Homo sapiens: one gene and its partner. The main gene of each other region encodes a partner of the protein of the gene in region 2 in a complex. Each region holds a gene or a part of one and is shown on either strand. Other genes may lie near its edges. The genes, in order: MTOR and RHEB.

Region 1 (15,274 bases), on a different chromosome or scaffold from region 2:
GGATGGGCTTTGTTATTGACAGTAGGAGGCATAACTTAAAGTGGTAATGGCTACTGAACATGAAGGAAGTAAATCTAGTTTTCTCGTGGTTCTTGACAGTGATAGTTTTGCAAAGGTGCTATTACTGCTAGCTTATCACCTGATAAGCATTTAATTGAACTTCAAATACTTGGTCTAGAAATATTTACTGAGCACCAAGCAGCTAATATGTTTTTTATTTACTGTTTCACACATGGAGTGGGTACCTGAAGCTCTGAGATTTTTATCAAACTATCTGATTTTAATCTATCTGTAAAAACACAGTTTAAAGTATGTCTGAATATCAGCTCACTAATGGTGTCTGGGTTGGAATAATTATTAACAGTATTACCTTGGTCCTCAAGCATTGATAATAGCTCAGAAATGGGAAGATGGAAGCAGCAGAAATTTATTTGCGTTGCTGGGAGGAACCCTGGAACCACATGGAACAGTGTTTCTAGGAGCGCGACTCACAGAGCAGGGGTCTAGAAGACTTGTGTCCCTCTGAGAGCCAGAGTCCTTTTTGTGTGTGGAAACCTCTCAGGAGTGTTTGAGTCAAGCTGTTTAACTTTTATTTTATTTGTATTAGTTTCCAGCACACACAGCATTGAAGTTACTGGTTTTGGGGGGTTTTTTTGTTTGTTTGTTTGTTTGTTTTTGAGTAAAATTGTTTAACTTTGTTTAGCCCTCCCCTCTTCCCCGCACTCCCCATCCCACCCCTTTTTTCCTTCGTGACATTTAGCAACACCCTACATAGTTCATACTTTGGGAATTACTGTTAGGGTGTAAAAAAGTATATCTTTTCTACAAATGTTTACAGAGCACTTACAACTAGTTAATAAACTAAGCCAAATAATGTCTAGGGGTGCAAAAAGAAAATGTGAGGTACAGTGGTCGCCTGAAGAAGCACAGAAAGCATTACAGAATTGACCATAACCTGCGTGAAATAGTCAGAGAGCAGGAGACTCTGCCGTGGAGCCTGCGGGTGCTTTCGTGTGGAGTAGGGCTGTGGAGATTCAGAAAAGGGGACTTCACTGTGAACCGTAGCTGCGAAGAGAGCACTTGGGTTGGTGGCATCTAACCATCACTTCACCTGACAAAGGGTAATTTTTCTTTCTTTTTTTTTTTTTTTTCTTGAGACAGAGTCTCGCTTTGTCACCCAGGCTGGAGTATGGTGGCGCAGTCTCGGCTCGCTGCAACCTCTGCCTCCCGAGTTCAAGCAATTCTCCTGCCTCAGTCTCCCAAGTAGCTGGGATTACAGACGCATGCCACCATGCTCAGCTAATTTTTTTGAATTTTTAGTAGAGATAGGGTTTCACCACGTTGGCCAGGCTGGTTTCGAACTCCTGACCTCAAGTGATCTGCCCGCCTCGGCCTCCCAAAGTGCTGGGATTACAGGCATGAGCCACCCCACCTTGCCAAAGGGTAATTTATCCTTATTGGATGGGTGGAATCTGATGGGTAGAAAGGAAAAGGGTGTTTCAGGCAAGAAATTGGGATACTGGCTTATAATGTCATACATGGACACTGTGACAGGATTTGTGAATGCCTGAATCACCAGGCTCATAGGACACACAGTCTCTGGGGGAGCTTATACTGGTGGCTGGTCTCAAACGAAGTGTGCTGAGACTTACTGGCTTCATTCTCAGGGCCCACCTCCCTAACAATTCTCAAGTGGCTACTATATGCTGTCTGTAGCATACAGAAGGGAACTAGGACAGCCAGTTCTGCTGGCACCAGATGGTGGTGGATTTGGTTGTTTAGCTTAAAAGTTAAATTCCAGCTGGGTGTTGTGGTGCACACCTGTAAGCCCAGGAGGAGCACTTGAGCCCAGGAGTTTGAGACTAGCCTGGGCAACACAGCAAGACCCTGTCTCAAAAAAAAGAACTTCCAATGGATCATTAATAGAAGTATAACTATCACCCGGGTGCGGTGGTTCATGCCTATAATCCCAGTACTTTGGGAGGCCCAGGCAGGCGGATCACCTGAGGTCAAGAGTTTGAGACCAGCTTGACCGACATGGAGAAACCCCATCTGTACTAAAAATACAAAATAAGCCAGGCATGGTAGCGCATGCCTGTAATCCCAGCTACTCGGGAGGCAGGAGAATCTCTTGAACCTGAGAGGCAGAGGTTGCAGTGAGCCGATATCATGCCACTGCACTCCAGCCTGGGCAACAAGAGCGAAACTCCGTCTCAAAAAAAAAAGAAGTATAATTATCACTACCTTCATTCAGAAGGTCTGTGATGTACAAGGACAGCATTCAAAAAACTTCATAATTCTGATTTCAGACTCTTCTCTGCTAAAAGCCATAATCAGTGGAGGGTGAACCTAACACCTGAGGACTTTTTCTACCCAGAGCTGATATGAAAATTCCTCCAAGGAATAACATTTCAACCTTGTGTGTGACACATTCCGAAGTTAATTTTCTTTATCAGTTTTTGTCCAAACACATTTTGTCACGAGGCTTTTGACCTGTTCTTATTCCTATGAGTTTATTTTGTTAATGCAATTTGCCTGAAAATCCATGTTTCAATTCTGATAAGCACCAAATTTTTTCAATAATTATTAACTCACATTTGAAAATGGCTTTACAGATTTAAAAATTTTTTTTTTTTTTTTTGCAAATGGAGTCTCAGGCTGGTCTTGAACTCAGCTACTCAAGTGATCCTTCCACCTCAGCCTCTTGAGTAGCTGAGATTACAGCTATGTCCAGCTTAAAACTTTGAAATACATAAAGAGTAACATAAAACTTTCCTTCTCTTTTCCCCTTTAGGGTAGGTAGGGCAGGCGTTAAAGGAATAGAGTGCGTAGAGAATTAGATGCTAACACCAACAGTGGCTTTTTGGTGTTTGAATTTTCTGTTAATTGATTTCTTTTCCCATAGAAATTTTGGACGGTGTGGAACTTGGAGAGCCAGCCCATAAGAAAACGGGGACCACAGTGCCAGAATCTATTCATTCTTTCAGTAAGTTCAGCCTCTGAGGAACCGCACCAGTGACTAGCTCATTAAGAAAATAGCAGCTGTGTTATACCCTGAGAGGGGTCAACAAGATGAAGCAACAAAACTGCCTTTGAGCAGAAAAGGTTCCATGAATTTCTCATTATATTCTGAGGACAAAGACGGACATAGAGGAAGGATTGCTTAACACTTACAAAAGTGAATATTTGAGAAAAACAGGGCACCCATTGAACCTGTTGTATTGCTCCCATTCTTACAGTTATTTCTACTTTTGTGTATTCCAGTTGGAGACGGTTTGGTGAAACCAGAGGCCCTAAATAAGAAAGCTATCCAGATTATTAACAGGGTTCGAGATAAGCTCACTGGTGAGTGTGTCATGTGTTTACTTAAAAGGGACATAAAATCTGAGCACACTTTCCTCTCTGAGTGGTGGTCAGCCCCATGTCCAGTGGTGTTAGTGACGAGCTTTGGCACCATGCAGCTGACAAAGAGTGTCTTTGAGGTCATCAGTTAAACATTGTCTCTGATTCTTCTTTCTGATGACTGATAACAGTACTTAATGTTAGTTTAATCTCATTTAACTCAGGAGGTGAATAAATTTCTTTTGGGTCCAAAATCAGCCAAATTCAGAGAAGTGTTTTTTAATCATGTCTTTTTTTTGTTTGTTTGAGACAGTTTTGCTCTTATTGCCCAGTCTGGAGTTCAGTGGCTCCATCTTGGCTCACTGCAACCTCTGCCTCCCAGGTTCAAACAATTCTCCTGCCTCAGCCTCCCGAGTAGCTGGGATTACAGGTGCACGCCCAGCTAATTTTTTGTGTTTTTAGTAGAGATGGGGTTTCACCATGTTGGGCAGGCTGGTCTCAAACTCCTGACCTCAAGTGATTCACCCACCGCACCCGGCCGAATTTTTCTTTTTTTCTTTTCTTTTTTTTTTTTTTTTTTGAGACAGGGTCTTGCTCTGTCACCCAGGCTGGAGTGCAGTGGTGCGATCTTGGCCCACTGCAACCTCCACCTTCCAGGTTCAAGTGATTCTCCTGCCTCAGGCTCCCAAGTAGCTGGGACTACAGGCATGTGCCACCACACTCGGCTAATTTTGTATTTTTAGTAAAGACAGGGTTTCACCATGTTGGCCAGGCTGGTGTTGAACTCCTGACCTCAGGTGATCTGCCTGCCTCAGCCTCCTAAAGTGCTGGGATTACAGGCGTGAGCCACCGCACCTGGCCAAACTTTTCAAATCCAACTATGATGGTATCCTTCATCTTCATGTCTGACGATAAGCTGTTGGCATAGACAGTTAAGCCCACAGGGAACAAGAAGTGCATCGATTGCCAGGAAGAGAGTGAAATGTTTTTGTTCCTCCTGTGCTAGGTCGGGACTTCTCTCATGATGACACTTTGGATGTTCCAACGCAAGTTGAGCTGCTCATCAAACAAGCGACATCCCATGAAAACCTCTGCCAGTGCTATATTGGCTGGTGAGTGGGGCTCTCAAAGTGACTTTGTTAAAATAAGCAATCAGGTCCCAAGCCTAGGCCCCAAAGCCAGAGTAGCAAAAAGAGATTTGGTGAGGTATCTGTAAAGGGCAGTTAGAGCTCAGATCTCTTTAAAAATTCATATTTACTGCATGTGCCCATTGTTATAAAAAAAGAAACTGAGAAATATGGATGCATACTTGGAAGGCAAACACTAAAATTAAAATTACATTAAGATAAGTGGTTCAGGAGAATAGGCAAGGCTTGTTTGTTTGTGAGGGGTTCCTTTTGGGTTTTGCTGTCAGTCCAGTGCAGAGATACAGGAAGGGCGAAGGAAAGAAAAAGCTAGAGCAGTGACAGAGAGAAGGAGATAAAAAGACAGATTTATGATCTGGGAGTCTAACCTCAAGGGCCACTCTGGGGTGTGCTTTGATTAATTGCCCAAGGCATGCTTGAAGGCAGAAACTTGAGAGAGCGGGCGCTGGGGAAGTGTCCTTGCGGGACCTCGGTGGGCATTAGCCTTGACTGGAAATGATGAGTGTGTCCCATGCAATTAGCTGTGGGAGAGCTCAGGGAATACCCTAGGGTTGTCAGACCTTGGCCTTTTCATTTTCAAGTTATCTGTGTAAACCTTTGAAGAAGCTCAAATTATTAAAATATTCCTTTTCTTTCTGCCTTCTTAGGTGCCCTTTCTGGTAACTGGAGGCCCAGATGTGCCCATCACGTTTTTTCTGAGGCTTTTGTACTTTAGTAAATGCTTCCACTAAACTGAAACCATGGTGAGAAAGTTTGACTTTGTTAAATATTTTGAAATGTAAATGAAAAGAACTACTGTATATTAAAAGTTGGTTTGAACCAACTTTCTAGCTGCTGTTGAAGAATATATTGTCAGAAACACAAGGCTTGATTTGGTTCCCAGGACAGTGAAACATAGTAATACCACGTAAATCAAGCCATTCATTTTGGGGAACAGAAGATCCATAACTTTAGAAATACGGGTTTTGACTTAACTCACAAGAGAACTCATCATAAGTACTTGCTGATGGAAGAATGACCTAGTTGCTCCTCTCAACATGGGTACAGCAAACTCAGCACAGCCAAGAAGCCTCAGGTCGTGGAGAACATGGATTAGGATCCTAGACTGTAAAGACACAGAAGATGCTGACCTCACCCCTGCCACCTATCCCAAGACCTCACTGGTCTGTGGACAGCAGCAGAAATGTTTGCAAGATAGGCCAAAATGAGTACAAAAGGTCTGTCTTCCATCAGACCCAGTGATGCTGCGACTCACACGCTTCAATTCAAGACCTGACCGCTAGTAGGGAGGTTTATTCAGATCGCTGGCAGCCTCGGCTGAGCAGATGCACAGAGGGGATCACTGTGCAGTGGGACCACCCTCACTGGCCTTCTGCAGCAGGGTTCTGGGATGTTTTCAGTGGTCAAAATACTCTGTTTAGAGCAAGGGCTCAGAAAACAGAAATACTGTCATGGAGGTGCTGAACACAGGGAAGGTCTGGTACATATTGGAAATTATGAGCAGAACAAATACTCAACTAAATGCACAAAGTATAAAGTGTAGCCATGTCTAGACACCATGTTGTATCAGAATAATTTTTGTGCCAATAAATGACATCAGAATTTTAAACATATGTATATGAGTGGCGTTTTAGTCATAATTTTGATCAGTTCAAAAAGGAAGCATTTACTCTCTTCAGCACTCAGCCTTCAGTAAACACTCTGTAGTAGGGATGACAGAGGACGTAAGGGTGTACGTGACATGGTCCCTTTCCTCAGACTGTTCCCAGGCCAGACAGGTGGAGACAGCATGCCACTGAAGTGAACAGAACTTACCCCGGCCAAGTGCTGAGAAGAGGCATGTATGGGCCACAGGTAGGAGCGTGTATTCCACCGGGTGAGCCTGGAAAGCCCCATAGAAAGGGGGACATTTGGCATGGGTCTTAAAGAGGGGTGGGAGTCTGTCAGATGAACCAAGGGGGGGGCATTCTCAGCAGAAAAGGAAGTGTGAGGCACTGCTGTAAAAGCAAGGTATCCATAGCAGTGGCAAGTATCAGTTGGACCATTTGAAATCACAGGTACGTGGACCATTTTTAATATACAAAACTGGCATTTTCTTATGGCTGCACCTCATAGTTCAGCATGTCTGGCTCAGTGGTCAGTGGGGAATAAAGGGAGTAACAGGAAAATAATAGGAACTAAAGGAGGCAGGAAAGCAGTACGGGGCCGGGGCCAGACCGGGGCCTCCCTCAGTTCAGCAGCAAGGAGTATGAACCTGATGCTGTGAAGTTTTAAAACGGAGTAGTATCTGAGTGGTGTTTTTTGTTTTTGTTTTTGTTGGAGACTGGGTCTCGCTCTGTCACCCAGGCTGAACTGCAGTGGCACAGTCATGGCTCACTGCAGCCTCGGCCCCCTGGGCTCAGGTGATCTTCCCGCCTCAGCCTCCCAATTAGCTGGGACTGCAGATGAGCACCCCCACCGCCAACTAATATTTGTATATTGGGGGAAATTCACCCCCGATATTTCACATAGGTTCTTTTCTATATTCCCTAAGTGTCAGCCGGTCTGAGAAAAGGGACAGAGTACAAAAGAGAAATTTTAAAGCTGGGTGTCCAGAGGAGACATCACATGTTGGCAGGTTCCATGATGCCCCCCTGAGCCATAAAACCAGCAAGTTTTTATTAGTGATTTTCAAAAGGGGAGGGAGTGTACGAATAGGGTGTGGGTCACAGAGATCACGTGCTTCACAAGGTAATAGAATATCACAAGGCAGTGGAGGCAGGGCAAGATCACAGGACCGGGGCAAAATTAATATTGCTAACGAAGTTTTGGGCACGCTTTGTCATTGATAACATCTTATCAGGAGACAGGGTTTGAGAGCAGACAACCAGTCTGACCAAAATTTATTAGGCGGGAATTTCCTCGTCCTAATAAGCCTGGGAGTGCTATGGGAGACTGGGGCTTATTTCATCCCTACAGCTTTCACCATAAAAGACGGCCGCCCCCGAAGCAGCCATTTCAGAGGCCTACCCTCAGGGATGCATTCTCTTTCTCAGGGATGTTCCTTGCTGAGAAAAATAATTTAGCGATATTTCTCCCATTTGCTTTTGAAAGAAGAGAAATATGGCTCTGTTGTGCCCAGCTCACCGGCGGTCAGAGTTTAAGGTTATCTCTCTCGTTCCCTGAACATTGCTGTTATTCTGTTCTTTTTTCAAGGTGCCCAGATTTCATATTGTTCAAACACACATGCTCTACAAACAATTTGTGCAGTTAATGCAATCATCACAGGGTCCTGAGGCAACATACATCCTCATCAGCTTATGAAGATGACGGGATTAAGAGATTAAAGTAAAGACAGGCATAGGAAATCACAAGGGTATTGATTGGGGAAGTGACAAGTGTCCATGAAATCTTCATAATTTATGTTCAGAGATTGCAGTAAAGACAGGCGTAAGAAATTATAAAAGTATTAATTTGGGGAACTAATAAATGTCCATGAAATCTTCACAATTTATGTTATTCTGTCATGGCTTCAGCCAGTCCCTCCATTCAGGGTTCCTGACTTCCCGCAACATTTTTTGTAGACAATGGGGTTTTGCCATCTTTCCCAGGCTGGTCTTGAACTCCTGGACTCAAGCAATCTGCCCCCCTCAGCCTCCCAGAGAAGCCACTGTGCCCAGCCCTGAGTGGTGTTTTTAAAAGGCAACTGGTGGCCAGGTGCAGTGGCTCACACCTGTAATCCCAGCACTTTGGGAGGCTGAGGCAGGTGGATCACCTGAGGTCAGGAGTTGGAGAGCAGCCTGGCCAACGTGGCCAAACCCCGTCTCTGCTAAAAATACAAAAGTTAGCCAGGTGTGGTGGCATACACCTGTAATCCCAGCTACTGGGGAGGCTGAGGCAGGAGAATTGCCTGAACCTGGGAGGCGGAGGTTGCAGTGAGACAAGATTGCACCACTATGCTCCAGCCTGGGCAACAGCAAGACTCCGTTTCAAAAAAAAAAAGGCCGGGCATGGTGGCAGGCGCCTGTAATCCCAGCTACTCAGGAGGCTAAGGCAGGAGAATCACTTGAACCGGGCAGCAAAGGTTGCAGTGAGCCGAGATCGCACCACTGCACTCCAGCCTGGGTGACAGAGCAAGACTGTTTCCAAAAAAAAAGGTGAATTTAAATCTCAATGGTGATACTAATAACAGTTCTAACACTCACAGCTAGAAAGTCACATACCTACTTGGATTTTCTGTTACAGTCCTAAACCATGTATCACCTATTTGCTCCAGAAAATATGGTCACCATAACTTTCCTGGCTCCAGATGAAATAACTCTCAGTGACTACAGTGATGTTACTATTCATGAACGATAAAGGTGTGAGAATGATAAAGGCAGGAAAATGGTGGCCATCAGTGATAAAGATATATTCTTTAGGATATAAGAGTCTGGATTAAGGTCTTTGGTGAATCCGATAGGTTTTAAGTTATATCTAAGCAAAGCCTTCTGGGTGTGTTGAGACAAATTATCAAAGGCAGAGGAGGAGCTAGTGGAGGCCTTTAAATACAGTTTAGTCCAGCCAGGCACGGCAGCTCATGCCCGTAACCCCAACACTTTGAGAAGCTAAGGTGAGAGGATTGCTTGAATCTAGGAGTTTGAGACCAGCCTGGGAAACATAGTGAGACCCTGCCTCTACAAAAAATAAAAAAATTCGTTGGGCATGGTGGCATGGGCCCAGTCTACCCTGGATGCTGAGGCCAGAGGATTGTTTGAGCCCAGGAGTTCAAGCTTACAGTAAGCTATGATTGTGCCACTGCACTCCAGCCTGGATGACAGAGACCCTATCTCTAAAAATAAATACATAAACAAGGATGAAGATCTTTATGATGATCCACTTAATGAATAGTAAATATATTTTCCTTAAAATTTTCGTAATTTATTGTAAGAATACAATACATACACACAATATGTGTCAGTTGACCGTTTGTTATCGGTAAGGCCTTTGGTCAACAGGAGGCTATTAGTTAAGTTTTGGGGGAGTTAAAAGCTATATGTGGATTTTCGACTGCTCAAAGGGATGGGAGCCCCTAATCACCAGATGTTGTTAACAGGTTAACTATTTTTTTCTTTTTTTTTTTTTTTTTTTTTTTTTTTTGGAGACAAGGTCTGGCACTATCACCCGGGCTGGGGGGCAGTGGTGCAATCTCAGCTTACTGCAACCTCCACCTCCCGGGCACGAGTTATCCTCCCACCTCAGCCTCCTGAGTAGCTGGGACTACAGGTGCATGCCATCACACTCGGCTAATTTTTGTATTTTCTGTAGAGACTGATTCTTGCCATGTTGTCCAGGCTGATCTCAAACTGGTGAGCTCAGGCCATCCTCCCACCTCAGCCTCCCAAAGTGCTAAGATTACATGTGTGAGCCACTGCGCCCAGCCAGTTGTATTTTTTAAGAATCAAGGCTGAGGCCGGGCATGGTGGCTTATGCCTATAATCCCAGCACTTTGGGAGGCCGAGGCGGGTGGATCACGAGGTCAGGAGTTTGAGACTAGCCTTGCCCACATGGTGAAACCCCATCTCTTACTTAAAAATGCAAAATTAGCTGGGCGTGGTGGTGCACGCCTGTAATCCCAGCTACTCAGGAGGCTGAGGCAGGAGAATCACTTGAACCCGGGAGGCAGAGGTTGCAGTGAGCCAAGATCATGCCATTGCACTCCAGCCTGGGCAATAGAGTGAGACTTCATCTCAAAAAAAAAAAAAAAAAAGAATCAAGGCTGTAGTGTCAACTTACTAAGTTTCAAATATCAACTGCATCTCATAGTACCTTTGTGACCTTGGATAAGTTACGTAGATTCTCTCTGCTTGTCTCCTCTGAAAGTGTGGGTAAGCCCTACCTTGTGAGGCTGTCTGAAAGACAAGATAATCCATGGAGGAGCATTTAGCACAGCCTGACTGACATGTGGTATTAGGTTGAACCACGTGAAATAGGTCCTCAAAAATACTAAATGAACTAGGCGTTTGTCCTGCCAGAGTACCTGTGTACCTGAAGCACACACACGGAAAAAGTGAAAAGCAAGTATTCTCTTAACTGGATATGCTGAACATTTATTGAAGACTTAATGGGTGGAATGAATTGTATTAAGGGCATCCCATCTCTAATTTCAGGAGAGTGAATCTATCTCTTGAGCTGCCTGATAATTCGGTGCCTCCCTCACAAGAGCTCTTCCAGGAGTTCACTTCACAAATGTGTACTGAGTTCCCACTCTGTGTTAACCAGAATGGTTCCAGCGATGTCTGCAGGAAACAACGTCTGCTTGGAGGAGTTCAGAGGGTACTGGAGGGAGGAAGCACAGTTGGAGCTAGACGCTTTCTTCAGGAGCTTACCTGTAAAGGGCAAGAGAGAGATGATGGCAGTTGGAAGGAGATGTGGGAGCCAGTGTTTTTTCCTTTTCTCTTTTAGTTGGGAAAGATGTCAGTGTACTTGTAGGCTGTTAGGAATGAACCAATAGAGAGGGAAAAGATAGATCCAGGGGGCAGGGGAGGTGTAATTAATTACAGGAGTCAAGACCAAATGGGTGAGGGGAACACAGAACCAGCCAGAGCTTGGGAGGAGGTGACTTTAAATATGAGGCTGGGCCGGGCACAGTGGTTCCTGCCTGTAATCCCAGTGAGGTGGGAGGACGGCTTCAGCCCAGGAGTTCGAGACCAGGTTGGTAAGATGCAGTCTAAAAAAAATAAGCCAGGCGCTGGTGGCGCACACCTGTAATCCCAGCACTTCGGGAGGCCAAAGCAGGTGGATCACTTGAGGTCAGGAGTTCAAGACCAGCCTGGCCAACATGGTGAAACCCCATCTCTACTAAAAATACAAAAAAAAAAAAAAAATTAGCCGGGCATTGTGGCACACGCCTGTAATCCCAGCTACTTGAACCTAGGAAGCGGAGGTTGCAGTGAGCTGAGATTGCACCACTGCACTCCAGCCTGGGCAGCAGAGTGAGACTCTGTCTCAAAAAAAAAAAATAAACAGGGCAGGCACGGTGGCTCCGCCTGTAATCCCAGCACTCTGGGAGGTCGAGGCGGGAGGATCACAAGGTGAGGAGTTCGAGACCAGCCTGGCCAATATGGTGAAACCCCGTTTCTACTAAAAATACGAAAAAAATTAGCCGAGCGTGGTGGTGCACGCCTGTAATCCCAGCTACTCGGGAGGCTGAGGCAAGAGAATTCGTTGAACCCGGGAGGCGGGAGGTTGCAGTGAGCCAAGATTGCGTCACTGCACTCCAGCCTGGGCAACAGAGTGAGACTCCATCTCAAAAAAAATAAAAATAAAAATAGGCTGCACGCTGATGACTCGTATCTGTAATCCCAGCACTTTGGGAGAGCAAGAGTGAAACTTTGTCCCAAAAACATGGTTTTTTTTGTTTGTTTGTGACAAGGTCTCACTCTGTTGCCCAGGCTGGAATGCAGTGGTTCGATCTCGGCTCACTGTAACCTCCACCTCCCGGGCTCAAGCCTCAGCCTCCCGAGTAGCTGGGATTACAGGCATGTGCCACCACGCCCGACTAATTTTTGTGTTTTTAGTATAGACAGAGTTTCACCATGTTGGCCAGGCTGGTCTCCAACTCCCGACCTCAGGTGATCCACCCGCCTCGGCCTCCTAAAGTGCTGGGATTACAGGTGTGAGTCACGGCGCCCAGCCTCAAAAACATAACCTTAAAAAGAAATTTTTGAGACAGGGTTTCATCCTGTCACCCCGGCTGGAGTGCAGTGGAGCCTCCACCTCCTCGGCTCAAGCAACCATCCCACCTCAGCCTCCCGAGCAGCTGGGACTACAGATGCGCACCACCACTCCCGGTAATCCCGGTTTGTTTGTTTTTTAAATTTTTAAATAAACACGAGGATAAGCGGGGATCGTGGCCCTCGCCTGGGGTCCCTGCTACTTCGCAGGCTAAGGTGGGAGGATCTCTTGAGCCCAAGAGTTCGAAACCAGATTGGGCAAACCTCGTGTCAAAAATATATGTGATAGTCAGGTCCTCCAGGCCGCACCCTAGATCACAGGGTTGTTGGGATGATACAATATGAGGTAAAAGAACGTGAAATTCACACCAGAGCGCTCGAAAGTGCCACCCTAATCGCAGGCTTCCCAACCTAATCGCAGGCTTCCCAACCTAATCGCAGGTGCCCCACCCTAAACGCAGGCTTCCCAACCTAATCGCAGGCGCCCCACCCCAATCGCAGGCTCCCCACACTATAATCAGACGCCCCGCCCGCCGCTTCGACCTGGCGCATGCGTGGTGCGCACGCGTCCCGTCTCCTCGGCCGACAAGCTCTCGCGAGACGAGCCGTGCAGGCTGAAAAAATGGCGCCACCCAGTACCCGGGAGCCCAGGGTCCTGTCGGCGACCAGCGCAACCAAATCCGACGGAGAGATGGTGCTGCCAGGCTTCCCGGACGCCGACAGCTTTGTGAAGGTGAGTTCGCGGGGCCTCGGGGGTACCAGGAGTCGCCCGCGGCCGCCGGAAGCCGACTGGGCCCTCTGGGCAGCCAATGCCCGCCCGCCGTAGTGGAGCCCGAGCGAGGGTCGCGGGGCCCCTGTCCGCGCTGGGCGCAGACTCTCCTGCACCCTCCGGGGATGGGGCCTCGGAAACGGACACTGAGGGGCGTCCCGCTTGCGAGCCTAAGTCCATGGAGGCCCAAATGTGGAAAGCCGTCTCGCATCCTGGGAAAGGCTTCCTTGCCACCCAGACGTCCCTAGCCCTTGCGACGTCGCGCTCGCCACGCCCTAGCCACCCGACCAGCTCTCCGCAGGGGCTCGGCTTCTTCGCGCTCCCCACACTTGCCTGGAGTTGTCTCCTCCCGCGGCCAGTATGGCCCTTCTCTTCCTCTGTTTCTGAAGTCCAGTCCTACATAATTTTTAACCCTGAGTTAAATGTCACCTGTTAAAGCCCCATTGCACGTTTATTAGTAACTCCTGGAAGGTATACAGGGCGTTCACTTAAGATCTTTGTATAACTTAGCTTAAATATGAGCAAACGTACAACTAGGCTTAAGGTGTGCATAGCTCTTACAAAGCAATGAAACTAAAATAATTTGTAAATTAACCCTATAAATTTACAGAAATTCCACTAACGTTGTATCTTATCTAATTTGCTGTTAGCTAATGCTATTGATTCATTAACATGGCTCTCAATAGTTCCTGGACCACTAACTGTGGTCCTGGTTGTGTGGCGGTCATGCTCATAAGCTACCATGTTCCCCTCCGTGACTTAATTTCCCACCTCCTTTCTCTGCTTTTTTCTTGGGAAATGTTTATTCACAAAACTCACAATGACGTTTTAGGCCTTCACATGATCAGCCATCATTTATGTCACTTCACGGCTTTTTTTCGTTACCTCACAACAGTTAAAATAGAGAACCACTTGACACTAACTGAACAATAAACACAAATCCAGTTTTAGATAGTAGCTGTTATAAATTTGTCGTCCAAGGATCTAGGATAAGCTTGTATTGTTTTTAGATGCTCATCCAGATGAAAACACAAAAACAAATTCCTGTAGAAAGCTCTTGGATCTGAACTTGAGTCGTAATAATAACGCTTATGTGCCAAGAACTGTCCTAAGTGCTTTTATTAGCTTATTCATTCTGTCCTCACAAAAACTCTGTGGTGCAGGCCCTTTTTATTTTTCCTGTTTCTCAGAGGAGAACACTAAAGTCCAAATAAAGCAATCACTTGTCCAAGATCTCAGTTAATACGTAGCAGAGTCAAGATTCAACCCCAGGTATTTGTGAATATTAATCAGATTATATACGTATGTATTCTGTCTCTCAACTCTCCCAAGAATATAAGCTCCAAACTTGGTTTCCTGTTCAGTATTGTATTCTCAGGGCCTAGATTAGATTGGGGTTTGGCACTAAATGAGTGCTTTTTTTGATGGATGAAGAGTAGATACCTTGTATACGATAGATCAAAAAAATGACATACCAAATGAATGGGGATCCCTGTGTAAACATGCCATCTTTTCTTGTTTTTGACAGTTTGCTCTTGGGTCCGTGGTGGCAGTCACCAAGGCATCTGGGGGCCTACCACAGTTTGGCGATGAGTATGATTTTTACCGAAGTTTTCCTGGCTTCCAAGCATTTTGCGAAACACAGGGAGACAGGTTGCTTCAGTGGTAAGTACTGTACTTTGTTTTCTTGTGTTAGTGAAAAGAAATGAAAACAAAGAAGTAGATAAATTTTTCCTGAAATTTATTTTTCCTTAAACATTTTCTGTGGTATGAAGAGCTATAAAATGTGAAAATTGAAGCAATGGATTTTGATTAGGGAAATATTACTTGGTATATTTTTAGTTTAGCCTTTAAAAAATGTATTGACTTTTGTACTGAAAAAATATATTGACTTTTGTACAAATCTTTTTTAATTAAATGGGACGTGAACACTTAGAGCCAAGATTCTTTTTTTTTTTTGAGACGGAGTCTCGCTCTATTGCCCAGGCTGGAGTGCGGTGGCATGATCTCGGCTCACTGCAAGCTCCGCCTCCCAGGTTCACGCTATTCTCCTGCCTCAGCCTCCTGAGTAGCTGGGACTACAGGTGCCCGTCAACACGCCCAGCTAATTTTTTGTATTTTTAGTAGAGACAGGGTTTCAACATGTTAGCCAGGATGGTCTCGATCTCCTGACCTCGTGATCCACCTGCCTCGGCCTCCCAAAGTGCTGGGATTACAGGCGTGAGCCACCGCGCCTTGCCAGATCCAAGATTCTTTCCCACAACTTGTAGAGTAGCAGGTATTTTTATTTTTATTTTTATTTTTTTTGAGATGGAGTCTCGCTC
Region 2 (15,757 bases):
CAAAGTGCTGGGATTACAGGTGTGAACCACCGCGCCCAGCCTGGAAAACTTTTTGAATGAATTTGTCCTTTACAACTGTGCTTCACATCTGGATTACCAATATTCTCAGGCTAGGGCAGTGCTTTCAAACTTTTTGAAGCAACCCACTGTAAGAAACTTTACAATGAGGCCGGGCACGGTGGCTCACGCCTGTAATCCCAGCACTTTGGGAGGCCGAGGCGGGCGGGTCATGAGGTCGAGAGGTCGAGACCATCCTGGCCAGTATGGTGAAACCCTATCTCTACTAAAAATACAAAAATTAGCCAGGCGTCGTGGCGGGCGCCTGTGGTCCCAGCTACTCGGGAGGCTGAGGCAGGAGAATGGCGCGAACCCGGAAGGCGGAGCTTGCAGTGAGCCGAGATTGCGCCACTGCACTCCAGCCTGGGCGACAGAGAGAGACTCCGTCTCAAAAAAAAAAAAGAAAGAAACTACAGTAAATCCCAACATGCAATAATACATATATAGCATATCTATAAACATATATATCTACACGTGCACTTACACAAACTTACCCTTACTCATTTTTTTAACTCACCACTGTACTAATGAGGACACATACTTACCCTTACTATGCATAACGCAGTTTTCTATTCTGTTCTATTTTTTTTAAAAAAAGGTAAAACTAAACTGATTTTATAATGCAAGGAATTTAGTAGCATCTGTTCAAAAACACCGTGGTGAGGGTATCCGAATCCACAGGATAAAAACGACACATTTTACAGGAGAGTGCATTTTAAGACCTTTATTTTAAAATACTTAAAATAACTATAGCGTAAACCTCAACATTTCATGGAAACATAGAACTTCCAGACATTGATCACTTCTGGCTGGCTGCCTGGGGCTTCCATCTGTAGATCCCCGAGGACAAGAATGCACACCCCAGCCCCTCATCGGAGTGCTTCCGTGGGAAAGCTGGAGGGAGTCGCTCTTGGGTTGGGTGTTCCAAGTCGACTCCAGTCACCTCTAAACCTTCCTACGCTGGAATACAAGGCCTGCCACTCAGCTTCCCCTGGCTTCATTCCTCCCCACCGATCACTGGCAAAGGGCGAAGGGCCATGCCCGGCCTCTGCAGGTCCCCACTGCCAAACAGCCTGGGCAGAATAGGGGCGGGTTCCCCGGCGCGGCGGAGTCTCTGCTAACTCGGCAAGTGCCAAGCCCTCCAGCAGCCACCACGCCGGGCCTGCCTGCAGGCTGGTCCCTCAACGGCACCTGCGTTCCCGGCCGGGCTTCCCTTCCCGCGCCCCTCTGCACTGCACCCCTGGGAAGGCTGTGCCCACACCACGGTCTCCGCCCGTCCACACCGCGGCCCGAGGCGTTCCTGGCACCCGGCTCGGGCCTGCCCGCCGCACCAGCCGCCCCGGTGCTGGCGGAGAACCGGCTTCCCGCCCCGGCGCTGTTCCAGGAGGTGCGCCGAGCTCCGCGCGAAGCGAAGCGGACACCAGAACTGACGAGGCTCGCCCTGTTTTTAATGAAATTCCTAACACTTTGAATTAACGCAGACTCCATGCTTCCCACAGTCCTTCGGCCGTCGGTGACGCTTAGTCACCACTACATCCTCAAACCCAGACACGAACGCTAACGCAGCTCAAGGAGAATTTTCAAAAAACCCCGAGGGAGGAGCCAGCCCACCCGCCCAGGCCACGCGCCTCGCGCCCTTCACGGGCTCAGCGGGCGCGAACCCGCCAACCGCTTAGCGTTTCGCCAATCACCGCACCTCCCACCTATTGCCCCGCCCTGCGCTCCGTTCTGGCCAATCACCAGGGAGCCACCGTTTGTCTCTCCGCCTCTCCCGCCCGCCCCTAACCGGTTGGAAGTTTGAAGCCTTCAAACCTAGCCGGCGCCCAACAGCGCGGTAGCAGCGAGGTGTATTTTTAGCTCCCGGGCGGGCAGCCCCGCCCCCCCCTCCCCGCCTCCTTGTTTCCCCCAATGGGAGATGGAGTTTCCGACACGTCATCGCGCGGCTGTGCAGGAGCTGTCCAATCGGCGCTCGGGGAGAATGGCGTAATTAAAAAGCGGCGGAAGAAGGTGGGAGGGTCATGACGCAGCGAGTTTCAGTCGTGACTTTTCTGGGGGCATCGCGGCGTCCCCTTTTTTTGCCTTTAAAGTAAAACGTCGCCCCGACGCACCCCCCGCGTATTTCGGGGGGCGGAGGCGGCGGGCCACGGCGCGAAGAGGGGCGGTGCTGACGCCGGCCGGTCACGTGGGCGTGTTGTGGGGGGGAGGGGCGCCGCCGCGCGGTCGGTTCCGGGCGGTTGGGAGCGCGCGAGCTAGCGAGCGAGAGGCAGCCGCGCCCGCCGCCGCCCCTGCTCTGTATGCCGCTCTCTCCCGGCGCGGCCGCCGCCGATCACAGCAGCAGGAGCCACCGCCGCCGCGGTTGATGTGGTTGGGCCGGGGCTGAGGAGGCCGCCAAGATGCCGCAGTCCAAGTCCCGGAAGATCGCGATCCTGGGCTACCGGTCTGTGGGTGAGTGGCCGGTGGCCGCGCGGCCTCCTCGCGCCGCCGGGGCCTCGCCTGGGAGCCGGGTCGCGGCCGGGCCTGCGAAGTTTGGAGCCGGCGCGGCCATGTGGCGGGGCGGGCGGGGGCCGCGCGTTTCGTAACCACCATTCTGAGCGGAGGTGGTGGCGGTCGGGGCGGCGTCCGCGCCGGTGGAGGAGCCGCGGTAGCTGGGCGCCCTCCGCGGGCCGGGCGGGCAGGTGGCGGCCGGGCGGAGGGCGTGGGAGGCGCGGGGCGGGGGCCGTCGGCCGCCGAGGAGTCCGGGTCTCGTCTGGGGAAGTGAGGCGGCGCCGGGGAGCCGCGCTAGAGGCTGCCGCGAGGGAGTCACACCTGCCTCCCCGCCTTCGCCGCGGGCGCGCGTGACCGGGGCTGGCGGTCTCCCCCACCCCGCCCCCGATGTAAGGAAAAGAAAGTCCGTGGGATTTTAACAAAGGAAGCAGCGCCTCGGCTTCATTCCATCTGTGGTGAAGTTTACCCTTGTAAAGAAAACTAGGGATTTAGAGGACGTTTGGGCACTGAACGCAAGTTTTCTGCATAGGAAACCTAGGCGATCCCCCAAAAGAGGTCCCTCTGGAGGCCCTCGAGATGCTGCTGGCGGCCTGGGTAGGAAGACAGAGAAAAAGGAATGTCTGATCTCTCGGTGCCCTATTTTTGTTCGGGAAGGAATAAGGTCAGGTACTTGCAACCAGGCTGTTGAAGTAATTCCAAAGTCTTTTTGTTTTCTTTTTCTTCCCCCAAAAGGTTGACATACATTTGAAACAGTTCCTAGCAGTCGCCTTATTGCTGAATAAGGTGGCTTAGGGTCGGGTTGGGGGGCGGACGGGGTGTTACAGAACGAGCGGTTTTCTGGCCTGTGTGAAACCAGAGCGATTGAACTTAGACACGCTTCAGGGTGAGGCTGTATTGTCTCCCGACATCCGGAAGCCTGGAGAAATTAGTTCATCTTTTCGGGCTGTTTTGAAGTAACTGTCTATAGAAGGCGTGCACCGGGCCACAGTTGAGGGGATGGGGAGGTGAAAGCGAGGGTTCCGAGGCTCCCGTGATTGCGGAACGGGGTGACTATCTGTCATGGGAAGCTTGTACCTGCCTGCCGCTCACTGGATGCACTCCCCAACTGCGCTTTCCACCGCCTGTGCCAGGGTCTGTGCTCTTTGACCAAGATCAGCCACTGCATGCTTACTCATCCTTTTACCACCTCTCCGTCGAGAGCCGGGGGGAAATTAAGGGCTGAAAGAAGCTTGGCTAGAGATGCGGGGTGCCTAGAGTCGTAGGGGAACTCTTGTGCGATGCGGTGCTGAATCCGAGGGGATGCATAGGTGGCAGCTTTAACAGCTGCAGCCAGGAAGTAACCATGAATCAAATGGAGGGGTTCAAAGTCACTAATTGTTCAAATATCAACATGGAACCTGGGATCCAGCCTTTATTGGCAGCCTGAATCCATGCTCTTGTCTCTGTTCTCTTGATTTCCTCCTCTGCATTTTGAGGAGTTGGGACCGCGAGGTGTTCTGGCTCTTGGGTGAGCCTTCCCTAGTCAGTCAAGTAAGTACTTATTGGCAACTATTTGGAAATAGTAGTCCCTGAATAATCACGTTATAGGCAACAAGTACCTCGGCTACCTGATTTCAACCCAAGAGAATGACCTAAAGATCTTGACTGATTTACCCTTTTCAAATGTCGAAATGGTAGCTCTAGTCTTTGGTGAGCAGGGCTAGTTTTATCACTTTTTTTTTTTTTTTTTTGGCTACAGAAGTTCCTTATGTCCAGTTGAAATCCATTCTGTTTTATCTTCCCTCTATTCAGCGTCCTCCTGAGGACGGAGATGTGACAGGCCACCCCTTAGCCTTGTCCTCACAAACTGTTGCTTGTTAAATACTGTGCTAACTTAGTCTCCGGTGGGATACAGGGTCACTTTTAGTCCCTATTTTCTGTCTTCAGTATTTCATATTTCTGCAACCTACCCCACTTCTCCATATTTATTTTCAAGCGTAGTCATATTAAACGATTTTGGAGAGGTTAAGTTGCTCCCAATCTTGTATTTGATTTTTTTTTTTTTTTTTTTCCGAGACGGAGTTTCGCTCTTGTGACCCAGGCTGGAGTGCAATGGCGCGATCTCGGCTCACTGCATCCTCCACGCCCCGGACTCAAGCGATTCTCCTGCCTCAGCCTCCAGAGTAGCTGGCACTACAGGCGTGCACCACTATGCCCGGCTAATTTTGTATTTTTAGTAGAGACGGGTTTCACCACTTGGCCAAACGTCAGGCTTGTCTCAAACGCCTGACCTCAGGTGGTCCTCCCACCTTGGCCTCCCAAAGTGCTGGGATTATAGGCGTGAGCCACCATGCCCAGCCGCATTTGATTTTAAAGTGTATTATGAGCCAGGATATTTTGTAGTATGTGGGGTCTTTTTTAGGGGAAGGAGATTAGGTTTTGCCAGCAGGTTTCTTCTAGTAAGCCACCCTTTTGAGAATTACTCAGCATGCTCACTTCTGGGAGCTTACTGGCATGTTTGCTTGCAAATGGTGGTGCTGTACCAGAGAAATTTGAGTACCTGTGTTTCTAGATTGTGGTATTTTGTGATGCTGAGCTGTTTGTCCTATATTCTGGGGGTAGAGCCACATAAAAAGCCTCCACACCTTTCTTAGAATGTTCTCTTGATTAAATACATTAAGCCAGTTTGACTAGTAGGATACTTGTCATTGTGATTTGTCATGCCACAAACTTTATTTTTAAAGTTGTCTTCAGATAAAACAAAAAAGTGCTATGTTTGTTTAACTAGTTGGCTTTCTTTTTTTTTTTTTTTTTTTTTTGTGACAGAGTCTCACTCTATCACCCAGGCTGGAGTGCAGTGGCGGGATCTGGGCTCACTGCAACCTCTGCTGCCCAGGTTCAACCGATTCTCCTGCCTCAGCCTCCCAAGTAGCTGGGATAACAGGCGCCTGCCACCCCGCCCAGCTAATTTTTGTATTTTTAGTAGAGACTGGGTTTCACCATCTTGGCCAGGATGGTCTTGAACTCCTGACCTCGTGATCCACCTGCCTCGGCCTCCCTAAGTGCTGGGATTACAGGCATGAGTCACTGCACCCAGCCCACTACTTGGCTTTCCGTTTTCTTTTTTTCTTTTTTTTTGAGTGTTGTCAGAACTACCAATAGGTAAAATATAATTCTCAGGTAGTCTATACAATTCTCCCTGCCAGTCCCCTGTACTTTTCCTGGTATTTACAATGTTAAAGCTTTTAAGGACACGTCACCTATAACTCTGGGAGTCTGGCTTTCAGGGAGTGCTTTGTATTAACTGTTGCCGTGATGGCCAAAAGTACCAGCTCCCTGACATTCCGTTATTTCTACCACAACGGAGTAGTCCCGCGATAGGAAGTAACTCAACTTAAAATGGTAGTGTTACGTAAACTGTCTTCAGCCTGGTACATCTTTCACTGGGATTTTACCTGTACAGAGAGCTTTGGTAACCTAGTTTACCATTAGACCATAATTAAAAGCTGGTTGTCATATATAAGCCTCTTACATACAGTTAATAAGAGGGATGGGATCACAGGCATGTGAAAGATCATAGGGGGAAAATGAAACAGCTTTGTGGTTTGGAAGAAGGCAATTCAGCAAAAGTACTCAAATTATTACTTTGTCAAAATGTTTAGGTAGTATTTAGAGTCTTCATGAGGAAAGATGTCATTAAATATTTGGTTGTTCCCAGCAGATTCTGACTTACTGTTTATTTTTTAAGTTAACCTATCATTTGTTGACACTTTTTATTGAAAAATTGAAAGGCAAAACAATATTTGCTATGTATGACATCTACCAGTATGTGAAATTGTATATTCAGGTGCTTAATATTCTGATGTTGTATACTTGTGGGTGGGGGTAGTCCTGAAGTGCCCACTTTGTATTGAAACTTGAAATTACTGTTTTTCAGTCTCATTCATTGTTCTGCACAAGAGCATAATCAGAATTCAGATTTCTGATTATGGCTTTCCAGTGCCAAATGTTATTTTGCTGTCCATATGGGTTATATCTCTCTGTACTTCATCACCCCAAAAAGAAACTCTGTACTCATTAGCAGTCACTCTCCATCCTGCTTCCCTGTCAGCCCCTGGCAACCACTAATCTTTCTGTTTCTATGAATTTACTTACTCTGGACATTTCATATAAATAAGAACATACATATGTGGTCTTCTGGGGCTGGCGTCTTTTACTTAGTATAATGTTTTCAAGGTTCGTTCATGTTGTAGCATATGTCGCTTCTTCCTGTTTAGTGCTGACTAATATTCTGTCATGTGAGTATACCACATTTTTTCTATGCATTTGTCAATTGGATATGTGGGTGGTTTCTTTTCTTTCTTTTTTTTTTTGGCTATTATTTTTTATTTATTTACTTTTCTGAGGCAGGGTCTTGCTCTGTTGCCCAGGCTGGAGTGCAGTGGAGCTATCATGGCTCACTGCAGTGTCAACCTCCTGGACTCAAGTGATCCTCCTGCCTCAGCTTCCCGAGTAGCTAGGACTGCAGGTGTGCGCCATCACACCCAGCTAGTTTTTTTATTTTTTTGTAGAGGTGGGAACCTTGCTTTGTTGCCCAAGCTGGTCTTGAACTCTTGACCTCAAGCAATCCTCTGGTCTCAGTCTCCCAGTGTTGGGATTACAGGTGTGAGACACCACTTGGAGCTCTACTTTCTGGCTACTATGAATAATAATGTTTTGAACATTCCTGTACAAGCTTTTATGTAGACATGTTTTCATTTCTCTTGGGTACATTCCTAGGAGTGGAATTGCTGGGTCATTATGGTTAACTCTGTGCTTAATATTTTGAAGAACTGTCAGATTTTTTCCAGAACAGCTGCACAATTTTATATTCCCATCAGCAATGTATGAGGGTTTAATTTTCTCCACATTCTCGTCAACAATTGTTACACTGCCTTTTTCATTTTAGCCATCCTATTGGGTGTGAAGTGGTATCATAGGATTTGCAAATAATTTCTCCTGTCTGTGGGTTGTCCTTTTACCTTCTCGATGGTGTCCTTCAAAGCAGAAAGTTTTTAATTTGAAGGCCGATATATCTATTTTTCTCCTGCCACTTATGCTTTTGGTGTCACATCTTAGAAGCCATTGCCTAATCCAAGGTCATATAGATTTACTACTATATTTTCTTCTAGATATTTTATCCTGTTAACTCTTACATTAGATCTGTGATCTATTTGTGGTTAATATTTGTATATGATGTGAGGGAGGGATAGAACTTTATACTTTTGCATGTGGATATCAAGTTGCCCTAGCTTCTTTTGTTAAAATAATGTTCTTTCTTCATTGAATTCCCTTGTCCGAGATGAAGTGACCGTCAATAGAAGAACTCACTCATTCCATTGATCTGTATGTCTGTCCTGCCAGTACCATACGATCTTGATTACTGTAGTTTTGTAGCTGGTTTTTAAATAGGGGCATATGAGTCCTCTAACTTTATTATTTCTGAAGATGTTTTTGGGTATTCTCAGTCCCTTGCATTTCCATATTGAATTTTAGGACTAGATTGCCAGTTTCTGCCAAAAAAGCAACTGCAATTTTGATAAGGTGTTTCACGGTTTTGCAGGTATCTTTTAATGTCTTAACAGCTGGATTCTCATCTCTGCTCCTGAATTCATTCCCTTAACGTTATTTTAATGAAGTAAGGAGTACTTGAATAGTTTTTCAGGTAGTTGAATATTCTTTGATACCGAAACTTCATAAGTGATAGTTTGCAAAGAATAGTTACACTATGCAATCTGAAATCATATTGATGAATTTGCCCAACTCCGCAGGTCTGCTTTATACTTGGAATGGATCTTCTACCATGCCTGGTTTTGTAGCGTTACTGGTCATTTGGAAAATATTTGTTCATCGTTACGCAGATCTTCCACATGTTGACACATTTTATTATACAAGCATTTTTAAAAATCACATTTGTTAATATCACCACCAATCTCTGCAAAGTCTTAAGTTTTAGAACACTGTTCGCTATGAGTGGTGCAAGTTTTCCAAAATTCTAATTTCCTCCTTGAGTTCAAATAATTTCCTTGGCAACATGCTACCAGTTTTTACTTGAATTGACTGTTTTGTTTCTTTAATTTCCAAGAAAATGTCTGCCAGCTATTCACATTTGCAATAATGATAGTTTGTCATCATTCTTGCAAGTAAAAAAGGCATTCCATGATAAAAGTGGCCAGTTCAGATCACTTCTCAAATGACTGCACAAGTGCTTTTTTTGGAAACAACCATCATACTTCAGTATGTAACAGAGGTGCTTTATGTGTACATCTCATTTTGTCGTGCAGAATATTAAAAAGACAGGTACCAAAGGGTCAAGATTTAATATAATTTTACTGCTTTTTCAAGGACACTGTTAAGTAGAAACAGCTCTTTTCCCACTGTGAATGCATGGTAGTAAAGAATACAGTGACTTACCACTCAGTTTGTAACTACTGTTTTTGATTCATGCCAAGGGGTGCCGAGCTAGCAGTTTTCCCTACCATTGCTTTTGCACCCTTAGTACAAATGGGAACTTTGTGGAAAAGGCAAATGATAACTTAATATTGCTATGAATATCGTTTTGACCTCATGAGACCCCTGAAAAGATTTTGGTAAACCCCTTAGAGGTCCACAGACCACCCTTTGAGAACCATTAAACTGTTGTAAGCTAGGATCTTGTTCACTGCTGTGCAAAATCGAATTGACAGTGACTGCATCCTAAATGCTGTTCACAGCGATATGGTTCCCACAGTGTTAGAAGAGCCTCCTAGGAGAGGCCCTGTAGCGTTGTGAGAGACAAAGATGGCAAGGCAGGAAAGAACTTGGCGTGGTTAGAATGGAAGGAAGCACGAGGGAGGCCAGAGAACATCAGGAGAGTTATGATATCTGTGTGCCTATTGGTTTGGCCTCTGATTGTGTTGCATTTTTGGATGAGTTGTGTTTGGACCTGGTGATGGCGAGGCTCCCAGAGAGTAGTGAAAATTGCAAAGAGTAGCAGGATACCAGAGACCCATATACTAATAATATAGTTTTTAAATACGAGTATCAGGATGAAGGTGGGGAGGAGTACACAAGTAAAAATAGCAACTTTATCACAGAATGAGACACTGCCACCTCTACCTGTGATTGTGGAAGGTCAGAGATGCACAATGCTTTTCTTGGGTGAAGATTCAGAATAACAAGTTCGCAAACAACTGTAATAGTGTCCATGGCTGGATTGTTCTTAGTTACTTGAATAAATCAGAACTGAACTTGCACATGATTGTGCAAGTGAGAGTATTATGAAATCTTTAGGGATCATACTTGAAGGAACCTTCATTCTTAGTTCTAATTTATTCTGAAGTACCAAATGAAATCTTAACATTGATACAGTACTCACGGTCTATCTTCGTCACGTCATTCTTGCTAACTGTGAGAATGCAAACTGCTGAGTCCTTTTAACATGAATTGCTGGATTGATTTTTAAATATAATCAGCTGTGCGCAGTGGCTCTCGCCTATAATTCCAGCACTTTGGGAGGCCAAGGCGAGTGGATCACCTGAGGTCAGGAGTTCGAGACCAGCCTGGCCAACCTGGCGAAACCCTGTCTCTACTAAAAATACAAAAATTAGCTGGGCGTGGTGGTGGGCGCCTGTAATCCCAGCTACTAGGGAGGCTGAGGCCTGCAGGAGAATCACTTGAACCCGAAGGGGGAGGTTGCAGTGAGTCGAGATCGCGCCACTGGGCGACAGAGCAAGACTCCATCTCAAAAAAAAAAAAAGAAATCTAACATTTTAAAGGTTCTGGAATACTATTTTAGTATTTTAATTTTCTTCAATATATGTTGGGCTTCTGGTTATTAAAAAAAAAAAAGGAGTTCCTGTAGGATTGGAGCTTTAAATCTAAACTGGTATTAGTTTAGAACAGGAAGTGCTAGAAAAGCCTTTACGTTGTGCTCTTATGGGCAAGTTAAGAAAGCAGGGCAGTTTAAAGATAGTGATAGAATTCACTCCGAAGTGTCATGCTTGCTTGGTTTGCGTCTTATCTGTAGTAGAATTGAGTCTTTCTCTCCCGCATTTCTCTTTTTGTTGTGCTTACATGTTTGCAGAAGGACTCCTCATGGACATTTGAAAGAGAAGTTGGTGTTTTAGCAAGATACACCATCCCACCTTTTGCAGGATTGAGAGTTGAATGTTAATAACTACCTGATGGCATAGTACATAATTTGTGAATGGGGATGCAAATATGGGCTTTTACAGTTAATACAGTTTTATGAGATGAAATGCTTTTCTAAGACTTCTGTGTCTTAGATATAAATGTGTCTGCCTATTTTGCTAGCTTTATTTTTTTTTTTATTTTTTATTTTTTGAGACGGAGTCTCACTGTGTCATCCAGGCTGCAGTGCAATGTCGCGATCTCGGCACACTGCAGCTTCAACCTTCCAGCCTCAAGGATCCTCCCGCCTCAGCCTCCCGAGCAGCTGGGACTATGGGTGTGTGCCACCATGCCCTGGCTATTTTTTTATTTTTTTGTAGACATGAGGTCTTACTTGTTGCCTCGACTGGTCTCGAAGTCCTGGACTCAAGCGATCCAGCCACCTCAGCCTCCCAGAGTTCTGGGATCACAGGCTGAGCCACTGCACCTGTATTTTGCTGGCTTTAAAATCTCAATCACATTTGGCATTTGTTTGAAAGAGAACATTTGGGCCAGGCCCCCAAAGATTGAATCACTGCAACTGTTGGTTGAAGAGGACAGTTTGTGAGTGTTATGTGTTATTCAAATTAGGTGTTCATTAAGCATTTGAATAAATGCTCTACTTTGTACCAGTCACAAAAGCTAGGACAGTTATAATCCTTGCCCTCAAGGAGCTTCAGTCTAGTTGAGAGCCACAGGAACTTGTTCCTGCTACTGAGAATAATAATTGTTGGTGCTTTTGAAGCATTTACTGTTATGGGGTACAATCTTAATGCACATGTATTAATAGCCTTTAAACTCGGGTAGGTGCAGTTGTTACACCTATTTTGCAGATAAGGAAACTGAAGTACAAAAAGTTTATGTGACTTGCCCAATGTCAAACTGTTGTTAAGTGACAAAGCCAGGATTTTGAACTCAGGCAGTGGCTCCAGAGCAGGCAGTCTTTAATCAGCTACTACACGATTGTTACTTAAATACAGTTGGGATAGGTGTTTGAGAGAAATAATCAAAGGCAGGGCTAACTTGATCATCAAGTGGGGATGGGGGTGGTGGGAGAATTGTCTTTAAAGGAAAGGCAGTGTGGCTCACTGAGTGAATGAGAAGGGTGAGGTGTGAGTAATGAGAGAGGTCGGGACTCATGTGTTTGCCAACTGTCCTTCAAGAACAGTTTTGTCTGCTCTGTGAAAAGTTTTAGACTTTTTCCTAGAAACTGTGGGAAGTGACTGAAGGGTTTTAAGCAACAAATAAGACGATGATCTATACCAGGGACTGGCAGACTTGTTCTGTAAAAGGCCAGATAGTAAATATCTCAAGCTTTGCAGGGCAGGCCATGTAGCCTCTCTTGCAGCTATTCTACTTTGCCTTTGTAGGACGGAAGCAGCCACAGACAATACATCAACGAGTGGGTGTGGCTGTGTGCTAGTAAAACTTTATTTATGGATATAACACTTGAACTTCATCTGATTTTCAGTATCATGAAATACTGTTTCTTTTTCCAACCACTTAAAGATGAAAAAAACATTTTTAGCTCATAGACTGTACAAAACCAAAACAGGCTGTAGGCCAAATTTGGCCCCTGGTCTGTAGTGTGCTGATCCTGGCTTCCATCCTCCTGCTGTTCTGTGAAGTGGGAGGGGTGGTAAGGGAGTAGAAATGGGAAGACCAGCCAAGGCGCAGAGTAGATGAGATGAAGAGGACGCACATGGGAGATTTCCTTAGAGGGAGAATGGGCAAGACCAATGTGGAAGCTGTGAAGTAGCCTTCAGATTTCTCATGTGAGTGCCTGAGTAGGTCATGTTGCCATTGGCTAAAATCAGAAATGATGGAACAGGAGCAAGTTTAAGGGGTGGACCAGATTTATTTATGCACCTGCCAGATCCACACACTTTCCTTGCTTTCTGGCCACAGAGGCCCTAGCGACCACCCACACAGGGCACAGTTCCCATGGTCCCGAAGACAGGTGGCTGTGCCTACAAGTAGGGTTCTGAGGGTTTGCTGGCCCTGGGTCCTTGTGTCACCCAAGGATTTGACCAAGCATACCCTCACACCGCAGGATTGTTGCCCCAGAGACAAATGAGGTTGCTGGGCCCGGGTGGCCCCACACGCTCACGTTGCCCACTCAGGCAGGCAGTGTCTTACTACAAGGATGTTTGTCATTCCTGCTTGCTGGGAGGGGGAGTTGGACTCTTTCTCTAGATCTTTTCATTCTGCATAAGAGTGCTACAAAAATGTGTGAATATGTTTTATAATAATAAATTGCTTTCTTAATCTAACCATGTTTCTGTATGAGCAGTGTCCTAAAAAATTGAGCTGTACACAAAATGAGCCTACCTTCCAATTTTTTTAGACTTCTATGGAAGTATTTCTGGAGCACAAATTTAGGGAGCTAAATTTATACAAATAATATGATCCTATTCCCTTAAACAAGGGTACAGAGCAGCCTTGCCCAATGGAAACAATCTGGCCTGGTGCAGTGGCTCACGCCTAGAATCCCAGCACTTTGGGACCCAAGGTGAGAGGACCACTTGAGCTCAGGAGCTCCAGAACAACCTGGGCAACACAGCGAAACCCTGTCTCTACAAAAGTGGGAGGCTGAGGTCTCAAAAAAAAAAAAAAACTAAAAATATAACCTAATGTAATTTTAGATTTTTCCAGTAGGCATATTAAGTAAAAAGAAATAAGTGAAATTAATATACTTAATTTAGCTCAGTATGTCCAAAATGTTATTTCAACATGTGATGGATATTGTTGATATTTGTACATTTGTCATACTTACACTGTGACACATCTCAGTCGGAACTGAGCACATTTCAGGTACTTACTGTCCATGTATGGCTACTGGCTGCCATATTAGACAGCCCAGATACTGTGAGGAGTGAATTGGTGTTGATAATGAGGTCAGCGCAGATTTTAAGAACTTTTGAAGAAATTATCTTTATAAAATATGAATGGTTTTAACCATTCAGGCTGACGGATGAGTATACTCTATTTCATATCTCATTTTCCTCATACTGTGTTATTACTAGTTTTGATCATTCTTAAATTTCATGTTCTTTAATATGTTAAGAAATAGAGAATTTTTGTCTTTGCTTTTCTCTAGCTCTTTCCCACCCTCACCTGTATCCCAGGTCTTCTCTCCAGATTGGCCACCGTTCTAGGAAAACTCATTCTTCATTGTTGCTAAACATTTAATTTCCTGCAGTTTATCAGGGCTATTATTGTTGCCTTCCACCTCAGCTTTGTCTTTAAACCATCCTGTAGAGATGAATATCCTGTTTTGAAAATCTCCAGGGAAACAGTTTTATGGCCTTTCTGGGTAGCACTTTATTTTTCTTTAGTTTAATAATCCTGTTAATAAAATTCTTCATTTATGAAACTGAGTCCTTCATGTTATATAATTAAACGTATTTCTTATTTTCCTCAGTGGTATATATCTGGTAGCATAATAATTGGCAATAGGGTTACCTATAAGTATTTGAAAGGGTATTTTTATGAACTAGTTTTACTTTTTCTGCCTTGTCTTTGTCATAATAATAATAATTGCAGTTTAATTTTTTCTTTTTTTTAAAATCTCCCAGCATCTATTTTTAAAATTGGGGAAGGGGTGTGAGAAAGAACAACATGATGTCAACCCTGCTTAGCTCACAGGAACAAGCGAGATAATTCATGTGAGAATGTTCCGTAAACTCTAACGGTGTCTCACTTTTTAGGTTCTGTACAATAATTAAGATGTGTATGTTCTGCATCACACACTCTCATCTGACTCTATATGACGGACATGTGGGGATTGGTATTCCAATTAGAATCGTAAACATCTTTTCAAAACACTTCCTTAGTGACACTATATATATGTGTGTGTGTAATATACATAGACACACACAATACAACACATATCACCCCTCCCTCTCGAAAAAGCAACAACCACCAATCCTGCCATAGGGGGAGCTACACATTTCTTACTAGAGTGGGTGCATACGATTGTTAAGCATATGATTGGCATTGTGTGTCATGTAAGGAACACATAGAAACCTTTATGCGGTTCATTGTTTTTCCAGCCTTTTAACAGTGGTGATTCAGGTTTCATTCCATTTATAAGCCAGGTGAGTCTGCAGTCTTTTTTCTGCCGTTTACAAACCAAGTCTGCTTTACTGGTGTCTGTTCTATTGTTAGTCCCCAACGAGGCACTCTCCTGGTATTCCTGTGCTTGCCCTGTGACTGTCTTGAGCCTGCAGAATGCAGCAGAGATGGTGATGTGCCAGTTCCAGGCTTTAAGCCCTAAGAAGTTGGCAGCTTCTGCTTTTGTGTTCTTGGGAGCCTCAAGTGATGTGCAGTAGATGTTAGGAGGAGACACAGAGAAAGGGAGAATGCCCCGCCTTCCCAGCTGTGTAGCACCACCAGCCCACCAGATAAAGGCCCCCCAAAGAGTAAACTAAAAGTGAGCCCAGCGTTGACTGTAGAACCATGAGCACATGAAATGGGTGGTGTCAGTCACTCAGCTGTGGGTAAATGAAACAGTAATTTTCTGCTTTAGGGGTATATGTATGTTTGTTATTTTGCTTGTGTTATTTTGAGGCTTTAGTTGAAATAGTTACTGTATGTCATCTTTCAGGTTAATTTATTAGATATAATTCCGAAAATACTTTTTTTATCCTAAGCGGATTATTTCTGCCTAAGAGCAGTTACTAATAGTATTACTAATATTAATAATAATGAGATTTGCTGAGCACTTGCTACATGCCAGATGTTTGGTATACATTTTCATTTAATCCTCACAAAGCACGTTATAGGATAGGTACCATTATGATGTCCATTTACAGATAAGGAAAAGGACTCAGGAAAACTGCCCAAAGTCACATAGCTAATAACCACCATCTCATACTGTTTAGTAAAAAGTAGTAAATGGGCTGGGCATGGTGACACACACCTGTAATCCCAGTGCTTTGAGAGACCAAGGTGAGAGGATCATTTGAGACCAGCAGTTTGAATACAGTGAGCTATGATCCTGCCATTGTACTCCAGCCTGGGCAACAGATAGAGACCCTGTCTC

What was found.
Region 1: the proteins of RHEB (region 2) and MTOR are in contact, whole or in part, in a cryo-EM structure (PDB 6BCU), measured with the Homo sapiens proteins. Residues at the interface, in NP_005605.1 of Homo sapiens: Lys5, Ser6, Arg7, Lys8, Arg15, Pro37, Ile39, Glu40, Thr42, Gln57, Ala62, Asp65, Tyr67, Ile69, Gln72, Thr73, Ser75, Ile76, Asp77, Asn79, Asp105, Met106, Val107, Gly108, Lys109, Val110, Ile112; in NP_001373429.1 of Homo sapiens: Arg62, His69, Glu73, Ala101, Thr102, Ile104, Gly105, Arg106, Asn109, Tyr110, Arg112, Asn113, Phe140, Glu143, Tyr144, Phe147, Glu154, Arg160, Thr969, Gln973, Phe977, Lys980, Glu1010, Phe1011, Gln1014, Met1018, Ser1050, Thr1051, Asn1264, Lys1293.

What each region holds. Positions count from the first base shown.
Region 1 is NC_000001.11:11,097,361-11,112,634, reverse strand, and holds the end of MTOR (serine/threonine-protein kinase mTOR), read left to right. Parts: intron 1-2,905; coding exon 2,906-2,986; intron 2,987-3,264; coding exon 3,265-3,345; intron 3,346-4,348; coding exon 4,349-4,454; intron 4,455-5,134; coding exon 5,135-5,150; 3' UTR 5,151-6,100; downstream 6,101-15,274. Other genes in the region: EXOSC10 (exosome complex component 10), read left to right, coding at 12,804-12,914, 14,479-14,615. UniProt on the Homo sapiens protein: Serine/threonine protein kinase which is a central regulator of cellular metabolism, growth and survival in response to hormones, growth factors, nutrients, energy and stress signals.
Region 2 is NC_000007.14:151,506,205-151,521,961, reverse strand, and holds the start of RHEB (GTP-binding protein Rheb), read left to right. Parts: upstream 1-2,066; 5' UTR 2,067-2,450; coding exon 2,451-2,502; intron 2,503-2,984; exon of another isoform or gene 2,985-3,202; intron 3,203-15,757. UniProt on the Homo sapiens protein: Small GTPase that acts as an allosteric activator of the canonical mTORC1 complex, an evolutionarily conserved central nutrient sensor that stimulates anabolic reactions and macromolecule biosynthesis to promote cellular biomass generation and growth.